Regions from separate parts of the Homo sapiens genome. Here region 1 is linked to region 2. Evidence: fine-mapped expression QTL. A gene starts in region 2. The other region holds a variant in brackets. All regions are shown on one strand. Distances are from middle to middle. Region 1 overlaps IMPG2 (interphotoreceptor matrix proteoglycan 2). Region 2 holds the start of IMPG2 (interphotoreceptor matrix proteoglycan 2).

Region 1 (10,215 bases), 37 kb after region 2:
TAGTAATACCCTTACAGGAATCCAAAATATGAATAAAATCAGTAATTGCACAAAATACCTAAAGCCTGACTCTTCTTGAAAAACCTACCATGTAGCCTTTAGCAGGTTTCTGTAGGATCCTGATGAATGAATAAAAAAAGTATCTTACTCATTTTTGTAACCCTAATAGGTAACATTCTTGAGGAAATGAACTGTGTTTTAGGATTTGTTGTAAGCTCTACATTAACTAGCACCAAGCGTGTATGTAGTATAATCTTAATATGTACAGTTTATATTGCTTTGGTTGACTTTGTTTAACCAATCAGACCAATATCAAAACATACTTGTGTTCGTAGTGTAGCATATGTGCACACACACCCATACATAGAGAGAGGGAAGAGAAATCAATTCGAAAGGATGACTTAAAAAATTTAGCTGTTATTTTAGATATTAAGGATACATGTGTAGGATTGTTACATGGGTATATTGGACCCAGGTAGTGAGCATAGTACCCAATATGTAGTTTTTCAACCCACACCTACCCGCCTTCTAGTAGTCCACAGTGTCTATTGTTCCTATGTTTATATCCATATATGCTCAATGTTTACCTCTCACTTATAAGTGAGAACATGCAGTATTTGGCTTTCTGTTCCTACATTAATTCACTTAGGATTATGGCCTCCAATTCCATCCAAGTTGCTGCAAAGGACATGAGTTCATTCTTTTTCATCGCTGCATAGTATTCCATGGTGTATATGTACCATATTTTCTTCATCCAATCCACCATTGATGGGCACCTCGATTGATTCCATGTTTTTGCTGTTATGAATAGCTAATGATGAACATATGAGTGCATGTGGCTTTTTGATATAATGATATGGGATTGCTGGTTTGAATGGTAGCTCTGTTTTAAGTTCTTTGAGAAATCTCCAAACTGCTTTCACAGTGGCTGAACTAATTTACATTCCTACTAATAGTATATAAGCATTTCTTTTTCTCTGCAACCTCATCAACATCTGTTATTTTCTCACTTTTTAGTAGCCATTCTGACTGGTGTGAGATGGTATTTCATTGTAGTTTTGATTTGCATTTCCCTGAGTGTTACTGATGCTGAGCATTTTTTCATATATTGACCTCATGTATGTCTTCTTTTGAGAAGTGTCTTTTCCTTTGCCTACTTTTTAATGGGGTTATTTGCTTTTTGCTGGTTGAATTGTTTAAATTCCCTATAGATTCTTGATATTAGACCTTTGTCAGATGCCTAGTTTGTGAATATTTTCTCCCATTCTGTAGGTTGTCTGTTTAGTATGTTGATAGTTTATTTTGCTGTGCAAAAGCTCTTTAGTTTAATGAAGTCCCACTTGTCAATTTTTGTTTTTGTTGCAATTGCTTTTGGGGGCTTGGCCATAAATTCTTTGCCAAGGCCAATGTTGAAAAAGATATTTTCTAAGTTTTCTTCTAGAATTTTTATAGTTTGAGGTCTTACATTTAAATATTTAATCAATTTTTAGTTAATTTTGGTATATGATAAAAGGTAGGGTTCCAGTTTTTTTTATTCTACATATGGCTAGCCAGTTATCCCAGCAGCATTTATTGAATGGGAAGTCCTTTCCCCATTGTTCATTTTTGTCAGACTTGTTGAAGATCAGTTGGTTGTAGATGTGAAGCTTTATTTCTGAGTTTTCTATCCTGTTCCATTGGTCTATTTGTCTGTTTTTGTACCAGTACCATTCTGTTTTGGTTACTGTAGCCTTATAGTGTGGTTGGAAGTTGGATAGTGTGATGCCTCTGGCTTTGTTCTTTTTGCTTAGGATACTTTGGCTATTCAGGCTCTTTTTTGGTTCCACATGAATTTTAAAGTAGCTTTTTCTAATTCTGTGAAGAATGACATTGCTAGTATGATAGGAATAGCATTGAATCTGTAAATTGCTTTGGGCAGTATGGTCATTTTAATGACATTGATTCTTCCAATCCATGAGCATGAGACTCTTTTGATTGATTCAGCTTTGGGTGTGGCCAAGGTTGCCACACTGTAAATTTTGCAAAGGCTATGTTTCCATATTAATTAATCATGGTTACAAGCTAAGTACATTTTGTTCCAATAGATTCTGTGTTACTATACCCTGACAGTAACACAATATTCCTGAAAACCTAACTTCAGACCTTACTGGATTTCATCATTCAAAGAGGAAAAATTTAGATCTGTGCTTTTTTCCTGCTAAGAGATTTATTTCTTGCATAATGTATCAACTAATAAATACCTGATCACAGTGCACCTCATTCACAACTACTAGGAGGTGATTAGAGAAGGAGGGGAAATGAATGAAAGTCTGTTAATTGGCTAAAGCATAATGGGTTTTCTCTGGAGCTGCCCCAAATTGATCATCTCATTCATTTCCTTGGGTTCTCCTGCCTGCTGATTCAAACTGTCCCATCTTTCTGTGCATCAGCTGGAAACAAACACCTTCATTCTCTCCTTCACCATCCCAACTCCCAAGAGGAATTTTTACAGAGAAGGTAGAATGATTCTGCTCATGTGAAGAGAAGGTTTTCCATCATGAGAACTAGCCTATAATGCAGCACATGCCATCGGAAGCTAGACTGGTAATGCGAGGCATATATAGTGTGAGTACATATATCTACAAATGTTGAGGCAGTATAATTTCCAAGCATTCAAAGTACTGATATGCACTTGAATGTTAAAACATCATAAAGATGCCAAGGGGAAGAGAGATGAGACTTTTTCTTCATTATCTTGTCATAGAATTAGGCTGGTAGACTTCATGGTAGACCACTATAAGAGGTAGACCATAATTTATTTTTCTAGATTGGATATTGAAGCATGCCATTTCACTGTAAATCTGGGCCTAATAACTAAAAATACTAACATATCAGCAGTTACTTAGAATATTGTAAAAAGCTTCTTACTCACAAGAATGGACAATGATATTTGCCCTTTTAAATGTTTTAGAATAACCATACTCAATAATCACCTAATTAGAGTCATTTTAATAAAATTAAAAATATTAGCTAATACTAATGTATTAGTTATAGGCCAGACATTGTTCTAGGTACTTTATTACTTGTATTAATTTACTTAATCCTCTGAACAATATAATGAGGTAGGTATTAATATTATCCTTCTCTTAAAGAGAAGGAAATTATGGCGTAGAGAATTTAAGGGACTTGTCCAAGGTCACAAAGCCAGTATTCAACCCCTATGCTATAATGCATATGTATTTAAATTATTAGGATATTTTACATCATTCAGAGATTAAAAAATCAGTTTTCTTTGTTGTACATATATGTGTGTGAATGAGAAAGACAAACATGAAGAATGAAAAGAAGTATTTAAATGGTTTCTATAATTTACATACTAAAAGCCCAGACTTCATCACTACACCATGTATCCATGTTACAAAATGGCACTTGTACCCCGTAAATCTACCAAAATTTATAAAAATTTAAAATTAAAAATGATATAATGAACTTTTCTGTAGATATTTGTACCAATTTCAAAATCATATCTGCTGAAATTCAAAGGCACTAACTTCAAATGAAGAAAGATTTAGAAAGTAACTACTTTATATTAGACAGACTTCTCCATGATAATGTTTCTCAAACCATCAGTTGTCAGCATATTGAATACGTACCATGTGGCCTGGCTGTGAGTCCATGCAATAAGGCAGTATATGAGAGAGACAGAGCTGTAGACAGGAGAGATATTGAAATTTTAGTGTTTCTCTTATCAACAACTTGTGCTAAATCTTGGTTGTTTCACTTTAAATAAAAATACCTGTTTCTCAGGCTTTAGGAAAACATCAAATGATCAAGAATAGGATTCCTAGAAGAGCAGGAAGTCTATGTCTTTCTGTGTCTGTAGCACATTCAGTGAGAGTAGGGGCAGAATGTACTGATCCCTGTGTGTCTTTCTGTCAGGGATGTGGCCTAGCGCAGCATTATCCTTTTGGTGCACACTGGCAGTACTCTTGGGGCAAAGATGGACCAGTAGAGGAATGGATAGTGGTGTTACTCCCTGACCTCTTATGAGATGACATATCTCCAACCCTACCATCATCCCTTACACATCTGCATTTATAGACATATAGAGCTTTACATTTTAACAAGATTTTTTACATTTAATTGTCACAATTACCCTATGAAATTTTTACAGGATGAAATTCTCTGAGTTCACAAAACTTAATGAGACTTGTTTACAATTCCAGTCGTTAAGTGACAGAAAAATGGAGCTATCAAATTAGTTAACAGTCTCTGGGACATTCTAGCAATGTCAGCAAAAGGAAAGTTAACTAATTTGATGGTTGTGGTTTATTAGAAAGCAAGAATTCAGTAATGGTTCTATTTTTTTTACAGTTTTGTTTCTTTAAAAAAAAGGTTAAATTATGAAATATCTCAGACATAGAGACAAATATTAAGCCTACTCTGACTCTGGCCCTCTCAAACTTGTGCTGCAGGAGATGATGGTAACTACAGTAAGCAGATGGCATTGGAAGTGCATTGAAATCCTGTGTGCACAGCTAGGACAAGGAATATTACTTCTTTTAGAAACTGCTAGGCACAGATTTTGAGTCTGTCCTAAATATACATGAATTTGTTTGTTTAATACCTACTAAGGATATTTATGCATTCTCCTTTTGCCATTCAAATGATTTTGTTTTTTTTTGTTGTTCATATTGATAAATAAATCTTGATTTAGTTTCTTGAATTGAATATTAGAATTTGTTTACCAATAAAAATATTGATTCATTGGATTCATTAAAACAATGAGTCTCTTTTACTGGAAAGTTCTCTACTCTCTGGGAAGGTTTACTAAGAAGAGCACTGGACTGGGCATCAAGAGACTTTTTCTTTTTGCCTCTACCTGGCTACTTTGATTTTGGATAAATGACTCAAACAATCTGATGCAATGTTTTTTATCTATAAACTGAGAAGATGGAAGACAACTCATTTATGATGACATCTCTATGTGAATGTCAAGTAGACATTTCAAACTCAACACATCCACAACTGAACTCCTGGTTCTCCCATGCCCCCAACCCAATTAACTCTGCATTTCTATTGGTGACAACTTTATTGTGTCTGTCATGCAGACCAAAACTTTGTGATCATGCTTTATATTTCCGTTTCTCCCACACCTCACATCCAATCCATCAAGAAATTCTGTTGCCTGTAGATTCAAAATATATCTCGAATCTGATCACTTTTCACCATCTTCACTGCCACCACCCTGGTATGAGCCACCAGCATCTTTTATTCTTATAATAGCTTCTTAACATGTCTAACCCTTTCCCAACTACAGTACATTTTCAACACAGCAGCCAGAGTTATTTTT[TA/A]TTTTTCTTATTAGTCTATATATTCGTCAGCTAAGGGGATTTTAACATTTGCTTAGAACAGTGTTTATCAAACTTTTCTCCCAAAGTCCTCAATGGCAGAAAATATGGGCAGTATAGCTCAGAGTTTTTTGTTTTGTTTTGTTTTTGCAAATCCAAACTTCCTTTTCTTAAGACTTCATGCACTCTTTTGTATTTTGCTATGTAGTATATCAGTATGTATAAATTTTATATAAATTGATTTATTTCCTCAAATATCACACAAAATGGAAGCTTTGGAAATGGAGCCAAGTCTACTCTGTGGCTTCTGGCCATCTACTGTATACTCTGTATATATGTACCATGTTGGAAAGAGTCTTAGAACAAACAAATTTATGGGGTTTATTCAAAAACTTTCTATGAAAACAAAACACCTTCATCATATAGTTAGTTCTACTATAACATGATATATTATTTCCTAAAAATTGTTGAAAATCACTCAATAAAAACTACAGGGGCAATGGGAATAATAAAGTTGGGGCACAATACCCAAAAACTTTGTCAACAATACATTTTTTAAAAAAAGGAAACTAGTGGCTGGCATGGTGGCTCAACGCCTGTAATCCCAGCACTTTGGGAGGCTGAGGCAGGCAGATTACTTGAAATCAGGAGTTCAAGACCAGCCTGGCCAACATGGTGAAATCCCGTCTCTACAAAAATACAAAAAAAATTAGCCAGGCATGGTGGCGTGCACCTGTAATCCTGACTGCTCGGGAGGCTAAGGCAGGAGAATAGCTTGAACCTGAGAGGCAGAGGTTGCAGTGAGCCGAGATTGCGCCACTGCACTCCAGCCTGGGCAACAACAGAGTGAGACTCCATCTCAAAAACAAACAAAAAGTAAACTAATAAAAATGGTGGCACAGTTTACATGTCCCATGTGGTTAAGAAATACACAAATACCATAATAAATATGTCACTTAACCTTGATGAATTTCTGACATTTGTTCGTAAAATTGGACACTGGAAAGATTGTAGCTTATAAATTATTGTAAAGTGATGGAAGGAGAGTTATGTGAAGAAGGACAGAAAGTTGTAACACTATACGAGGGTAGGTGTGGTTCATAACTCATGGGTGAACTAAGGTAGCTGGAAGATGTCTGAAGTGTTGGGCATGAGAGTGCTTGGTGTATTCCTACATGGTCTCTATTCATCTGGGTGGTTTTGTTTGTTCATCTAGTGTTTCTCACAATGAAATTGGGTATAGGTAAAGGAGAAATCTGTATTATGCTCAACTGTTTCTTAATATATTAATCATGTTGAAACAAATTTACAAATAAATAGCATAGCAGAACTGACTGTATGTATCATGTATCTCTATTGATAAGTCACTGCCTGTACTAGGTATAAATAATAGAGGATACAAGATATTCACTATTCTTAGAAAATAAGGCATATAAAGAAATAACAATACATAACTAAAATATAAGTTAATTTTGAAAATTTAAAAATTTGTATTCTGCCTGAAACTAGGGCAGATGAGGTTGAAGTGGGGTGGAGACTGCCGACTGTGGGAGATGCTGAAGGGGATGACATGGGGCTAGCTCACACTGGGAGTGATACCATAGGAGTGGCCTAAGAATTTACTCAGCCTATCTTTCTCCGCTTGAATATTACCATCATCCATTAAAACCCTTATTTGCCCACGATTTCCATGGACCACAAAGCCAAATATATATTTTTTTCAGCAAATATTTTATTCTCTTTGGGATGACATGTGTCACTACTCCATTAACTCCCATTTCCACTATTCAAATTTATTTTTATAAATTTTTTGAGATTATTTTTGTATTCTCTGTGTAAAGAGATTCTTGTATTAGTTTTCTACTGCTGCTTTAACTAATTAGTCTGACCTTGGCAGCTTAAAACAACATAGATTATCTTATAGTTCTGCAGTTCAAAAGCCTCCTTTGGGTCTCAAAGTATCAGCATGGCTATGTTCCTTTTTAGAAGCTGTAGGGGAGAATCTGTTTTCTTGCCTTTTCTAGCTTCTACAGACCACCCACATTTCTTGGCTCATGGCCCACTTCCATCTTCAAAGACAGCAATGGCCGGTGGAGTCTCTCTCACATTCCGTCACTCTGACTTTCTTCTGTCTCTCTCTTCCACATGAAAGGGTCCCTGTGATTACATGGAGCCTACTGGATAACCCAGCATACTCTGCCTATTTTAAGATCTGCCGATTAGCAAGCTTAATTCTACTTGCAACCTTAATTCCCCTCTCTGGGAATTAAGATATGGCCCTCTTTGGGAGGCTAGTATTCTGCCAATCACAATTCTCTGTAATTTAAATTGCAGACCTCTATGCAAACTCTAATACATCTGCTAATGTATGTCTTGCACCAAATACTCTGCTATATCCTATTTTAAACATCTCCTGCTATCAGTTGCCAACTCTTAAAAAGAACATTTTCTGCCTGTATTCAGGACCTTAAATTCTGTCTTTCCTCTTAGAAACCTCTGCCTGTCATTGTTTCTCTCTTTCTCCTGAGTCTCCAACTTCCTTCTTTACTAACTCTTTCCCATTAGTATTTAAACATGCTGAAGTCCCTCTCATGTTACCTATTTTTAAAACAGCCCGCATTTATCTCCATTATAGCCAGACATCTTGAAAGAATGTCCACTTAGCTCCAATCACTCCTTAAACTCCTGCCATCTGGTTTTACGGTTACATCCCCAATAACGAGTGCAAGGCTCATCCTAGGATATGTGCTTACTAAATATTTGTTAAATTAATAACAGAATTTCTACCTAATCACCCAAGTCTATTATCAGGTCTCTGGTGATATTCTCAGTATAAGGACTGCTCTTTGGGATTGTGTGTGTGTGTGTCTCAATTAATTTACATTTGTAGTTGAGAATTGTAGTTGAGAATACCCATCATGGATCACTATATATATATAATTTTTTTTTTTTGCAACAGTCTCGCTCTGTCACCCAGGCTGGAGTGCAGTGGCCCGATCTCAGCCCACTGCAACCTCCACCTCTGACGTTCAAGCGATTCTCCTGCCTCAGCCTCCCGAGTAGCTGGGATTACAGGCATGTGCCACTATGCCCGGCTAATTTTTGTATGTTTTTTAGTAGAGATGGGGTTTCGCCATGTTGGCCAGGCTGGTTTCGAACTCCTGACCTCAGGTGATCCGTCCACCTCGGCCTCCCAAAGTGCTGTGATTACAGGCATGAGCCACTGTGCCTGGCCTATATATATATATTTTCAGCAAATGTTTTATTCTGTTTGGGATGATATATGTCACTGTCCCATTAACCCCTGTTTTATATTTGTTTAGCATTTCATACTTTTTCTGATGCTTCTGCATATAATATTTTATTTAATTTTTGTCAACACCTTCTTGAAATAGGCAGACGTGGAGGTGTTCTTGTTTTAAAGGGTAAGTTTTTGAGGCCCAGAGCAACTAAGGTATTTCCCTAAATCATACACAAAGTTAATGATACATCTAGGACTAGCACTCAGGTTTCTTAACTCCTTTCTTTGAGTTCTTTTGTGGTCACATGTGATTATAGTAACATATTCGAGAGCAAAGCAAAGTATAGAAGATATCAAGGGGAGCAGGAATCTGCATATGAACCTGTGCTTGGCTTGTTTTACAATGTCTTTAAATATATGTTCTATGTGGCTATGAGCAGCTGTTGACATGATCCCACCTGAATTCCATTGACATGATTAGGTAGTAGTGGTGAAGAATGAATAATGTGCTGGATGAAATGAGGAGAGGAGATAGTAAGGGGTTGTATGTTATTAGTATTAAGCTAAAGATCTTAGCTGAACAGCTTCAACTTTGTGGTTTGACTTAGAAATTAAGTAGTATTTCTCTTTCCAAGCTCAATACACCTCTGTGTTCCAGTGCTGTGGTGAGTGACATTTTAAAGGATCTCTGCAGGGGGAATACTTAATGAAAACATGTAAAAGGATTCTTGTTGTTAAGTGTTCTTTACTGTCTCTTGAAAGGAGAGTGGGTGGTTGAGGGATTAAGAGTTGGAGTGTAGGCAAGTGATTTAAATTACTAAGAGTTTCCTACTTATCACTATTAAAATAATGTTATTTTGAATTCAGCAAGGTGAAATCTAGTTCAACTGAAGTAAACTTCTCCATTCTGAATGTTTGCTTAGTTAGAGAATTAGCGTAAATTTGATTTGACGTCGGAGACAATTTAACTCACCCCAGGTGAAGTCCGGTTTCTCTGCTACCTCATTGCAACATCCTATTCGAGTTGCTGTGTTGTGCTTTCATACCTTTGCCTTATTGTGATCCTTATATCTGGTTGCTCTCCATAGAGCAACTCTAACCAGGTTCCCCTTCCTCTTTCTGGGACCTTACACACTGACTTTTAGGTCATTTAGTTTTTATAGGCCAGTATCATGAAGGCCAAGTGAAACCCTTCTAAAGAGTAGGGATCACATAAGGGCCATGTTGTGAAGCAGTGATTTGAGATGAGTAAGAATGAGGTTTCTGGCATCCAGTGGGCCTATTTTACATAACAGCTTCTCCATTGGCTTAGCTGTGTGACCCTGAGCAAATTCTTAACCTCTTCTAGCATTAGTTTCCTCATCAGTCTAAATGGGATCATAGGATCTCCTTCTTAAGGTGGTTGCCAGAATTAAGTTAGTTAACCTAAATAAAGCACTTAGCAGTGTATGACACATGATGAGGGCTCAGTAAAGTTAGTTGTAATTATTCTTGCTGTTATTATTGAAAGAGAACTGGATACAATTAGGAATTTTTGTGTGAGCCTGGGAAAGTTGCTTTACCTGTTTGGACCTTATTTCTTTCATCTATGAAATGAAGGTACTGGGAAGGAGTACTGCCATGTGGACAATTGATGGACCCTAT
Region 2 (10,215 bases):
GGAATCACTCTTTGCTTTTTGAACTGTCATCTCATTACTTCAGTCATTGCCACTATTATTTACAAAGATGGGTCTAGTAGCAGAATGTTTTTGACCAGAAGTCGGCTTGGAGAATGCTTAACGGTACTTTGAAAGCATGAGAGTTATAGTATGCAGCTACAACTTTTTGATGTCTTTAATATGAGAGAGGAAGGATAATATATAGTAAAATACAGTACACATTTTGGAAATCATTAAATATCTATTATGTTGGGTTTTTTCTCCCTTTTTTATTCCACACTAGAACTTCATCATAGGGTGTCAGGTTCTGCCCCTCTCATACCCTTTCCAGATGGATTTGATTTTGTGAATATACTAAAAATGCTTAATTGTATGCTATTGGTGAATTGTATTATGTGAATTATATCTTAATATAATTGTTATTTTAAAAAAGTTAGCAATTTGTCATTTCTTATAAAAATGAAATTAAAACAAATTTGAAATTATGCTGCTAAAGTGATTACACTCTTTTTTTCCTCTCATTAGGATCCTATTGTTAACTTTGAACTTCCAATTCATTTGGAGAAGTGGTTTCCTCGTCATGTAATAAAGACCAAACGGGAAGATATTCGAGAGCTCATCTTGAAACTTCATTTACAGCAACAGAAGGGCAGCAGTAGCTAGTTAATCTGTACAAACATGACACAGATGTTCTCTAAGATTACTGGAAAGCCTCTTACCAGCATTTGTGTTAGCCAGCTCACAGAGAAGAAAATAACTTGCAGTAGTTTTATAATAAGTCATTGGAACATTATTTAAAATATGTAGGACACATTATTAGAATTGTTGGGATCTCATAGATGGAATGGGAATGGGGGTGATATAGATAAACTTACTAGATATAAATTAAAATTTTATAAATATTTCATATTTTTCTGAGTAAATATGATTGGATTATGCAACAGCATATGTAATATGGGAATGTTTTGTAGATAATAAAACTTACATGATCTGTACTTCCACGTGACTGGGTGCTGAGGGGAGTTAAAGCCTCCCTGGTGCCAGCCCCAGTGCTTGTCAAATTTGCTGACAGGTCACATCATATTGTAATTCTATTCTTTGCAGCTCAAGCATGCAGTATGAATACTGTGTATTTTTTAAAAAAATAATTTAGTATCAAGGCTTCAGAAAATGCCATTTACGGCATCCCTTCTGTATGTAACAAAAAGACATTCATAATGTTAGGAAGATGATAAAAATTCGCTCTTTTAAAGTGCAGCTTATTATTCTCAATTGCTAAATACGATTACTCTGCTTTTTTTTTTTCATTTCTTTTGATGTCATATGTGAGTATCTTATAATTTAGTTCATTTGTTCAGGGTAAAATTTGAAACAAAAAATTTTACCTGTGCAAAATAGTTTTTTAAAAATTATACATGTAGCTCAACTTGAGGTACTGCTATATAAATATTCACTCACATTATCACGGAATTTATGTATAGTTTCTCTAATATAGAAGATAAAATTGGTGTCCTCATAACTTTAACAAAGAAAACCCTCAGTCCTATTTATTAATGGGTAGAATTAAATATATAATTTTATAGCTCAGTTTACCCAGTATTCATCTGCAAAGCCAGATTGCTCTCATTGCTTTTATATTTTTAAATTGTAGCTTTTAGAGACCTATGATCCTCATGGAACTTAATTTTTTATTAAATATTCAGGTAACAGTTCTGAATTCATGTGATAATGGTGGCATTATATATGATTAAACACTTCAGAACTTTCTAATGTTATCAGGAGTATTTTGAGGGAGATATGATTATATTGTATTTTCTCAGATAAGAAAAATGTTTTTTAACAATATTATTTTAATCTGTTTTAAGCATCTCTTAGATTTACATTATAACTACATAAAGCAGTGAAGCAAAGGCAAATTAAGATAAAGCTAGAAAGTCTGAACATTTTATTTCAAAATCATACGAATCGGGGTCAGTTAAGCCTCAGTATTCTTAGCTTTTGTTGATTTTGGCACTATCTTTATATTATTAAATATATTTGTTGTTTGGATATTTCATATAAAGATGGCTATAATTACATATTTCATTCCCAATTTGTGTGTGTTGGGGGGTACTTTTAAAGGTGACTATTGTTTTGTACATCTAATTTTGGGAAAGCAAGTCTATAAGACATCTTGTGATTTCTTAATGTTTTTGTTTGTATGTTTTTCAAAGATATCACTGTCCTTTATCATGTTTTGAAGATTGTTTAAAATTCATTTTCCTAAATTAATGTGCAAGTAATGTTTTGAGGATATCAGTGTTTTATATTAAACATATTTCCAATTCATTAAATTGAGGTGTAATTTTTTTCCTTAAGAAACATGAGCTACTGTTAGAAATAAATTTCCAGTTGTATGCTGCTCTGTGTATATCATGAAATTGATGCTTATATTAATTATTCTTCATATTTTAAAAGCATATAGTTTATTTGAGTGTCATTTCAGTTCAGGGAAATTATTTTAGCTTCTACTACTAGCAGGCATTTTGCTAGGCACAAAAAATGAATGATATTTGTTCCTGAGTCATTTATGGACATGTGAACATTTTAAATATTTTCTGGTAAGAACAACCATAGAGTTTCTTTGGGAATGCAGGAGGGAGCTCAGCCTAGAGGGGTGTGTGTGTGTGTGTGTGTGTGTGTGTGTGTGTGTGTGTGTGTATGTTAGTGAGGAGGTAGAGAGGTAGAGAGAGGGTTGTTAGTGAACAAAGCAAGCCTTCCTAGAGAAGATAATATTATTTTAATTTCACAGCTCTTGGGATGTTAAAAAAAGAAGTTATTTAAATCATATCCAATCACCTAATTAGGAGTTTAAAAAAGTTTAATACCTTTTGAAATCAACTTTTTTATGCCAAGAGGAAAAATAGGTTTAGACTTGGCCTATAGAGCCCATCCTTAATCTTGTTCCAGCCTATATCCTATTCTTATCTTTCCATTGTCCTCTACTTTTGCAGTTGTATAAAATTATTCGTTCATGTATTTAGGTACTTCCTCTGCGGTCTCTTGTAACTAAACTTGTCCTTGTGGAAATTTGGAAACTGCCCATGCGTTGTTAAGAGGCATAGTTCTGTGTGTATGAGGCTTCTGTCTGCTTCTGTGGCCTGCTCCCACCCAGGTGGTCTCTTCTGTTACAACTTAGTGCATCCTTCTTGGGGGCTGGAGAAATCAGGGCTCTTATAAAGATTCCAGATGAAGATGTACTTCACTTGAAATTATTATTATAACACTGTTTGCTGTGCCATATTTTTCTACAAAGTAAGCCTGGAGCCACATTTTGGACTGTTGTCCCATGAGTGTGAATATCACTTTGAACCCAAGACTATAGATGCTTGTGTGGAGTGGGGGTTGTGACATTGTACCTCCATACCTTTTCACCACTTCTTGTGAACTTTATTTTTTCAAAGTTGAATGTAAATGTTACCACCCCTACACCTACTCAAACAATAGTTCATTCCCCCTCCTGCTCCCCTATAGCAATTTGTATATACTTCTCTAATTACTGTTTTATATTATTTGTATACACGTTTTTCTCCTTAGACTGTAAGCTCCTCAAAGACTGGAAGCATTTTTCCATTTCTGATATTAAGTATCTTACTAGCATATAGTAAACACTCAGAAAATTTTGTTGAGTCAATAAATGATCCTTGACTTATTTGTAATTAAGTTTAGATGAAGGAATCTGTATTTGTTGTCTCTAAAGCACAGAGTTTTATGTTTAGTTTCTCATATGCTTATGATTCTGGGACATTTCTTGAAGCATAAAAAGATTCAAGGACCATCCTATGAGATTGTGAAATATTACCTAAAAAGAATCTCCTTAAATAAAAACTCAAAGAATATACTTTTTTGAGTAATTAAACATTAGAGAGACAATGTTTCATCTGTAGGTAAAAATCCAAAATTCTTGCTAAAACTTTGAAGGTATTCCATAATCAATCTCAACTTTTCAGCCTTCATTCCCAACGTATTTGCTGTATGCTCCTATCTTGCGTGCTCCAGCAAATATCTTCCTATTTTCTTTATAAACAGTATACTTTTCCACTTTATTGATCACGACGAGGGATTTCTCTCCTAACTCTTAGTTCTTCCCACTAACAATCCTTACTTCTGCCCACTAAAATACTGAAATGCCAAGTAGGCCATTCAAGGCGCAGCTGAAATACCCGCCTCCTGCTTCCCCCACACCCTCTTGCTTTTTCTAGTTGGAGTTACTCTTGCTTTTGGATTCCTATGACACAAACTTAATAGCGGGCATCACCTGCTTTGTATCATAGATACAAAGTTACAGTTAAAAGTTACAAATAAATGTCAAGTTAAATTGAATTTGTAAAATGATGACCATATTTAGAAACAAATGAACCCATCTAATTTCTTATATTTCTTTTTTTAAAGTACAGGTTTCTGAAATTATACCAACTATATTTTATAGAACATAATATAATAAATGTTTAAGAAGTTTTTATGTGAATTCTCTGTTTGAAATATAAGTTAATGGAAAATTTATTTTGGAGCTTGAGCAAAATAGAATTTCAAAGCTTGAAACATGTTTGGACTCTGTGAACACTTGTAATACAAAACAATTCCTATTTACAAAGTTTACTGGTAATACAAATACAGTAGTTTACAGAGAACTTTCATGTCTCTTAATTCTTAACAACGACCCTGTGATACAGGTAGAGATTATCACATGTAATTTCTTTGGTGAGTAAACCGGCTCAAAGAGCTTAGGTTATTTACCAAAATCAAATATTAAGTGATAAAACCAAGATTTGAGTCCAGGGTTTCTCAATCTAAATACAGGAATCTTTCTAGATTACTATGATTCTCAGAAGTTTTTTTTAGCTTTTTGGTCAAGGCTGTCAAAAAGAATAATTGCCAACTAATATTTGTTACCTAAGAGTTGTCCCTTGTTCTGAATTGTCAATATGAAGCTTTTCTTAAGATTAAACTTTGACTCAGCTAATAAAATTTTCGGCTTTTTTCTCCTACTCATACAATAAATTTGGCAAGTAAGTTTCTTATAAGCTTACCAGTATTTTGCAAATACAACTATGCAAATATATTTAATGGTCATTTAGGTTTATTAGCTTTTATAAAGGCTGAAAATGTGGTTTATTTGAGGCTGTATTGAAAAAATATACTTGAGCTTTTCCTAAAGCATAAAATAACATTGAGGGTGATTTAGCTAACACAATTAGTCAAGGATTCTCAAGAGGAATGTGGTTTAGATCTTTACAATACACTTTTTTTCAGAGAATTTTGCCAGAGATAACATGAAATAAAATATAATTTCATTGCTATTTGATAGTAAATCCAAGCTTCCACAGGGATTCTGATGAATTGCTTTCTACTAGGTTTACTTGATTTAAAAAACTGTTCTAATATAGAGAATTTCATCTGCAGGGAAAATGTTTTCTTGGTTAAGAGTTCCTCATGTAGATAAACACACTGGGCCTCACATTTAATGGCAAATTAAGCAACAAAGTTATCGCACAGCTATCATTTATATTAAGTGCTTAATATGTTCCGGGCACTACTCTAAGCAAAGTGAAGATTGAATTAGTTAATTAGTTAATTTAATCCTCACATTAGCTCTACCATGAGTTTACTATTTCTATTCCATTTTATACGTAAGGAAGGAGACAAAGTAAGTGATTTTTCTATCAAGGAAGGAAATTTGCAAGAGAATAGTTTCATTACAAAAACTAAATTTGTACGTAGCTCTGTATTATTGAAATAGGTAGATATAGTCAGTCTGGACTTTTTATGCTTATACATCTTAGTCCCTAGGAAAACCCAGAACTAACAGATTCAGAAAAGTTGGAAAAATCAGTGAATTATATGTGAAACACATTATTCTTAGTGGACTGCTTGTTAAAGGCAAGGAGAGTGTTAGTAAAGAGCTTAGGTAGATTAGAATAAAGAAATTGTCTCTCTCCATCTGCTCTAATTAGCTTATCTCACCAGCTTTTATAGCATGCTGGTTATTTCAGAAAAGAAGTGAGAGCTACTTTGAAAGGACAACCATTTTTCTTTCCGCTAATTTATAATGGTTTTGAAGTGGTTGTTCATTCTCAAACATAGACTTTTAAATGTTAGGTCTTTCCTATAACTCTTTGTTATTGGAAGTTTCAAGGATTTGGACACTCAATTAAGGATTCTGTCCTCTCCTCATTCCTTTGGTTTTGGCCCAAATGATTATGTTTCCTCTTTTTGGGAAGATTTCTCTGGGTATTTTGATATTTGTCCTGATAGAAGGAGACTTTCCATCATTAACAGGTATTTAAAAATCTACATTTGTTTTTATCTTTCCATATCTGTAGTATATGTTCTTCAAAAATAGGATTATTTGATGTGATTGCTGTAAGAAATGGAATCAAATACTACTTTATTAATCTTTGATATGGCTTCATTTAAACCGTTTTAAAATATCTCCAATAATTTTGGTTTTCCCTCATTAGTAATTTCTGGTTTAAACCTTACTTTTATTTATTTTGTTGAAATTGGATGTGTATTTACTTGATTTTGATAACAATCTTGAATGAAAGGAGTGGGAGTTAAATGGAAAAAGATGGACTGCCTCACTCCTCTTTTCCTTAGATATGCATGCCTGCCTATGATTTGGGCACTGGCTTCTCTATCTTAATGTAGCCCAAGTGTCAGTTTTTCTTTAGTTGTTACCTTTTGTACTGTATCTTCATTATCGAAGACTTGACTATACTTTCACTCTGTAGCACAAACCTACTTATCTATAGAGGAGATCCAAGAACCCAAGAGTGCAGTTTCTTTTCTCCTGCCTGAAGAATCAACAGACCTTTCTCTAGCTACCAAAAAGAAACAGCCTCTGGACCGCAGAGAAACTGAAAGACAGTGGTTAATCAGAAGGCGGAGATCTATTCTGTTTCCTAATGGAGTGAAAATCTGCCCAGATGAAAGTGTTGCAGAGGCTGTGGCAAATCATGTGAAGTATTTTAAAGTCCGAGGTAAGCGAACATCCAAATCCTTCAGCTCCATAATGAAATTCAAACATAGTTTAATCATTTGTTAGGTAACATTGTAAATCAAAATTTACGATAATTTAGACAGGACTGAGCCAAAACTACCTTTCTACTGCTAAGAATATAGTGTTAATGGTAACTTCAGAGAACAGTTTACATTAAGAGAGGAGGTTTGTTTTTTTTCCAGTGCCCTCCAGTTAAGGCAATAATATCATTTAATAATGACATGCACTTTGAACCAAAGGAAGAACGCTTTCATGATTTGAGTTTGTAGCTTTTGGTGCGTTATGTAAGAAACTTTTTTCACATGAGGGCAGTCACAATAAGATGTCTTTCATTAATTTCAACAACATATTCAGAGAGGAAATGTCTTAAATCTTTTTAAGCACTTCAAAAATACCAGTTTATGTTTTGGGCTACATTAATTTTAATTTTTACTTCTTCATTACAGTAAATGCCTAAGTATACCCACAAAATAGCTTTACCAAAGTATACTCACCTGCTTGCCTATTTATTAATAGTTATTATATATACAAATATAATGTTTCTATATTTTATAGTTTAGATATTCTGCAGATTCACACAGGTTGCTCTCTAGTTGGTACACATAAAATTTTCACATCTAAAATGATGGCATTTCTCAAAATCTCACATTTTATTTTGTCTTTAAACAGTATTCTTGATCTCATACTTTTTATGTAAGTCAATTCTGTTTCTCATATATTTACTAAATTGCTTAATTGACCTTAGTATGTCCCTTAGACATTTGAAGGATTCCCAAACTTTGCTTTTTACTGCTCAAGAACCAATAAAAAGCCATAATATGGATGTGATGTTAGTAAACAAGGTGAAATTAGATGATGAAGTGATTGTAAAATGAGGCTTTTAAATTCATGCATTTATTCATTAATTCATTCAACAAATGTTTATTGAGCCCGAATTTTCCAGGCACTGGATTATATGAACCTTCTGTCTGAGCTGCTACTTTATCTTCTTTTCCTCTTCCTGTCCTTCCCTTCTTCCCTTCTCATCAAAGTTTTAAAAACACAATAAAAATTTAATATAATACCAGCTATTACACATATTTATATATTTGATATTTTTGTTAAAGTAGTACAATGTATATTGGCAGCTCTTTGTTATGAGTGTATTTCTATTTCTTGATTGTATTTGGGAGCTATCAAATATTACTATGCAATAAGCTTTCCTTTTACTTTTTAAATGGAGATCCACAGACCTGGCATTTTGAGTATAGGCCATATGCCAGAAATGGAAAATTCCAAAGACAGTGGGAAGAGAATAAAGGAACTGAAGGTGAATGAGGATGACAGTTAATAATTTATCAAGATTCGATTTCTACCACCTGGATTTTTACTTTATATTATTATTATTATTATTATTATTATTATTATTATTATTTATTACTATTTTTTGGGACATACTCACATTCTGTCGCCCAGGCTGGAGTGCAGTGGCATGATCTCGGCTCACTGCACCCTCCACCTCCTGGGTTCAAGTGATTCTCCTGCCTTAGCCTCCCAAGTAGCTGGGATTACAGGCACATGCCACCATGCCCAGCTAGTTTTTTTTGTTTTGTTTTTTTGTGTTTTTGGTAGAGATGGGGTCTCACCGTACTTTATATTATTTTAAAATAAGAATATCTTGGTATTTTGGGAACTGATTAAATAGTGAAGAGGAAATAACCAATCATGTAAGGGATTTGGTCATACCTTTTGATTGCTTTGCTCTTGTTTTTATAAATTCAAGAGATACTGTTGAAAAAGAAGCTGACAAAAATGAACATAAAGCATTCCTAGAATAATTGATTTTAAAATACAGATGCTATGAATAGGATCCTTGAAAAGGGATCTCATACAGCTAAGATGGTTGGCACACCACATCAAGATTATAGCTGAGATAGCTGTTATGGTCATGGTAAAGAATAAATATTTCATTTGTTTTTAAAAATTGACAGAAATGAGTATTTTAACATAGGTCTTGCTTGATTTTGAAGAGATAATTTGTATTATGCCCTTAACACCAAATGTTTGCAATTTAGAGGGAGGGAGTTATTCAATATCCAATTAAGGATCTTAGCTCTTTCTACCAAGCTAATTCAGTCTAATGGTTTGCTCAATTTTTCCTTCATAGAGAATTTGGTATCAATTGCTAGTTGTTGTAACAAATTTGAAAAGTGTTTCTAAGCAAGACACAACTATATTTAACCTAATGTTTTGTAAAATTAAACAGCATACTAGGATGCCCCTCTCTTTTTTAAAAAAAATATTCGTTGTTGGACTTTTTAAAATATAGCTTTATTGAGGTATATTTTAATGAAATACAGCCTGCATATATTTAAAGTATACCATTTCATTAGTTTTGACGAATTTACCCTTGAAACCATCATTATAGTTAAGATAATAAACCTATCAATCACTCTTAAACATTTCTTCATGACCATTTATAATGCCCACCTCCCTCACTACCTCTCCTTACCCCAATACTGAGGCAACCATGAATTTGCTTTCTATCGCTATGTATTAGTTTGCATTTTCTATACTTTTATATATAAATGGAATATACTCTTTGGTATATACTCTTTTTTTGGTCTGGTTTCTTTTACTCAGTGTAATTATTTTGAAATTTATGCATGTGTTTTGTGTATCAATAGTTTGTTAGCTTTTATTGTTGGGTAGTATTCTATATTACGGATATACCACAATATGGGATATTTGGGTTGTTTTTAGTTATTACTGATTACAAGAAAAGAAATTATGGTCATTTGGGTACAAGTTTTTCTGTGAACATATTTTCATTTCTATTGAGTAATAATAGTGGAACGTCTGGGTCACGTGATAGGTATACGTTTAACTTTCCAGTAAATTGTCAAGTTTTCCAATATGACTGTATCACCAACAGTGTAGTAGGATTCCGTTTTCTTCACATCCTCTCAACACTTGGTATAGTTGGTCTTTTTTAACTTTAGCCATTCCAGTGGATGTATATCTTATTGTGGTATTAATTTGCATTTTCCTAACCACTTATGACTAACAATTTTGAGCATTTTTTTTACATAATTATCTGTCATTTATATATCTTTTTTTAGTGAGGAGTCTATTTGAATATTTTGCCCATTAAAAAATGGGTTGCTTGTCTATTATTGAGTTGTAATAGTTCT

The links. PIP is the estimated chance that this variant, and not a neighbour inherited with it, causes the effect.
Region 1: its variant is fine-mapped to the expression of IMPG2 in esophagus muscle (GTEx, PIP above 0.99).

Annotation. Positions count from the first base shown.
Region 1 is chr3:101,279,014-101,289,228 of GRCh38, reverse strand. The region is part of intron 4 of IMPG2 (interphotoreceptor matrix proteoglycan 2); the gene reads left to right. Among named protein-coding and RNA genes, the nearest start is that of IMPG2, 36 kb to the left of the region's middle. The variant TA/A (reference allele first, on the strand shown) is at 5,333.
Region 2 is chr3:101,316,391-101,326,605 of GRCh38, reverse strand. It overlaps IMPG2 (interphotoreceptor matrix proteoglycan 2), which reads left to right and starts at 6,031. Exons shown (of 19, transcript NM_016247.4): 1 at 6,031-6,318; 2 at 6,774-7,022. The coding sequence starts at 6,234. It overlaps SENP7 (SUMO specific peptidase 7), which reads left to right. Exons shown (of 24, transcript NM_020654.5): 24 at 526-2,401. The coding sequence ends at 663.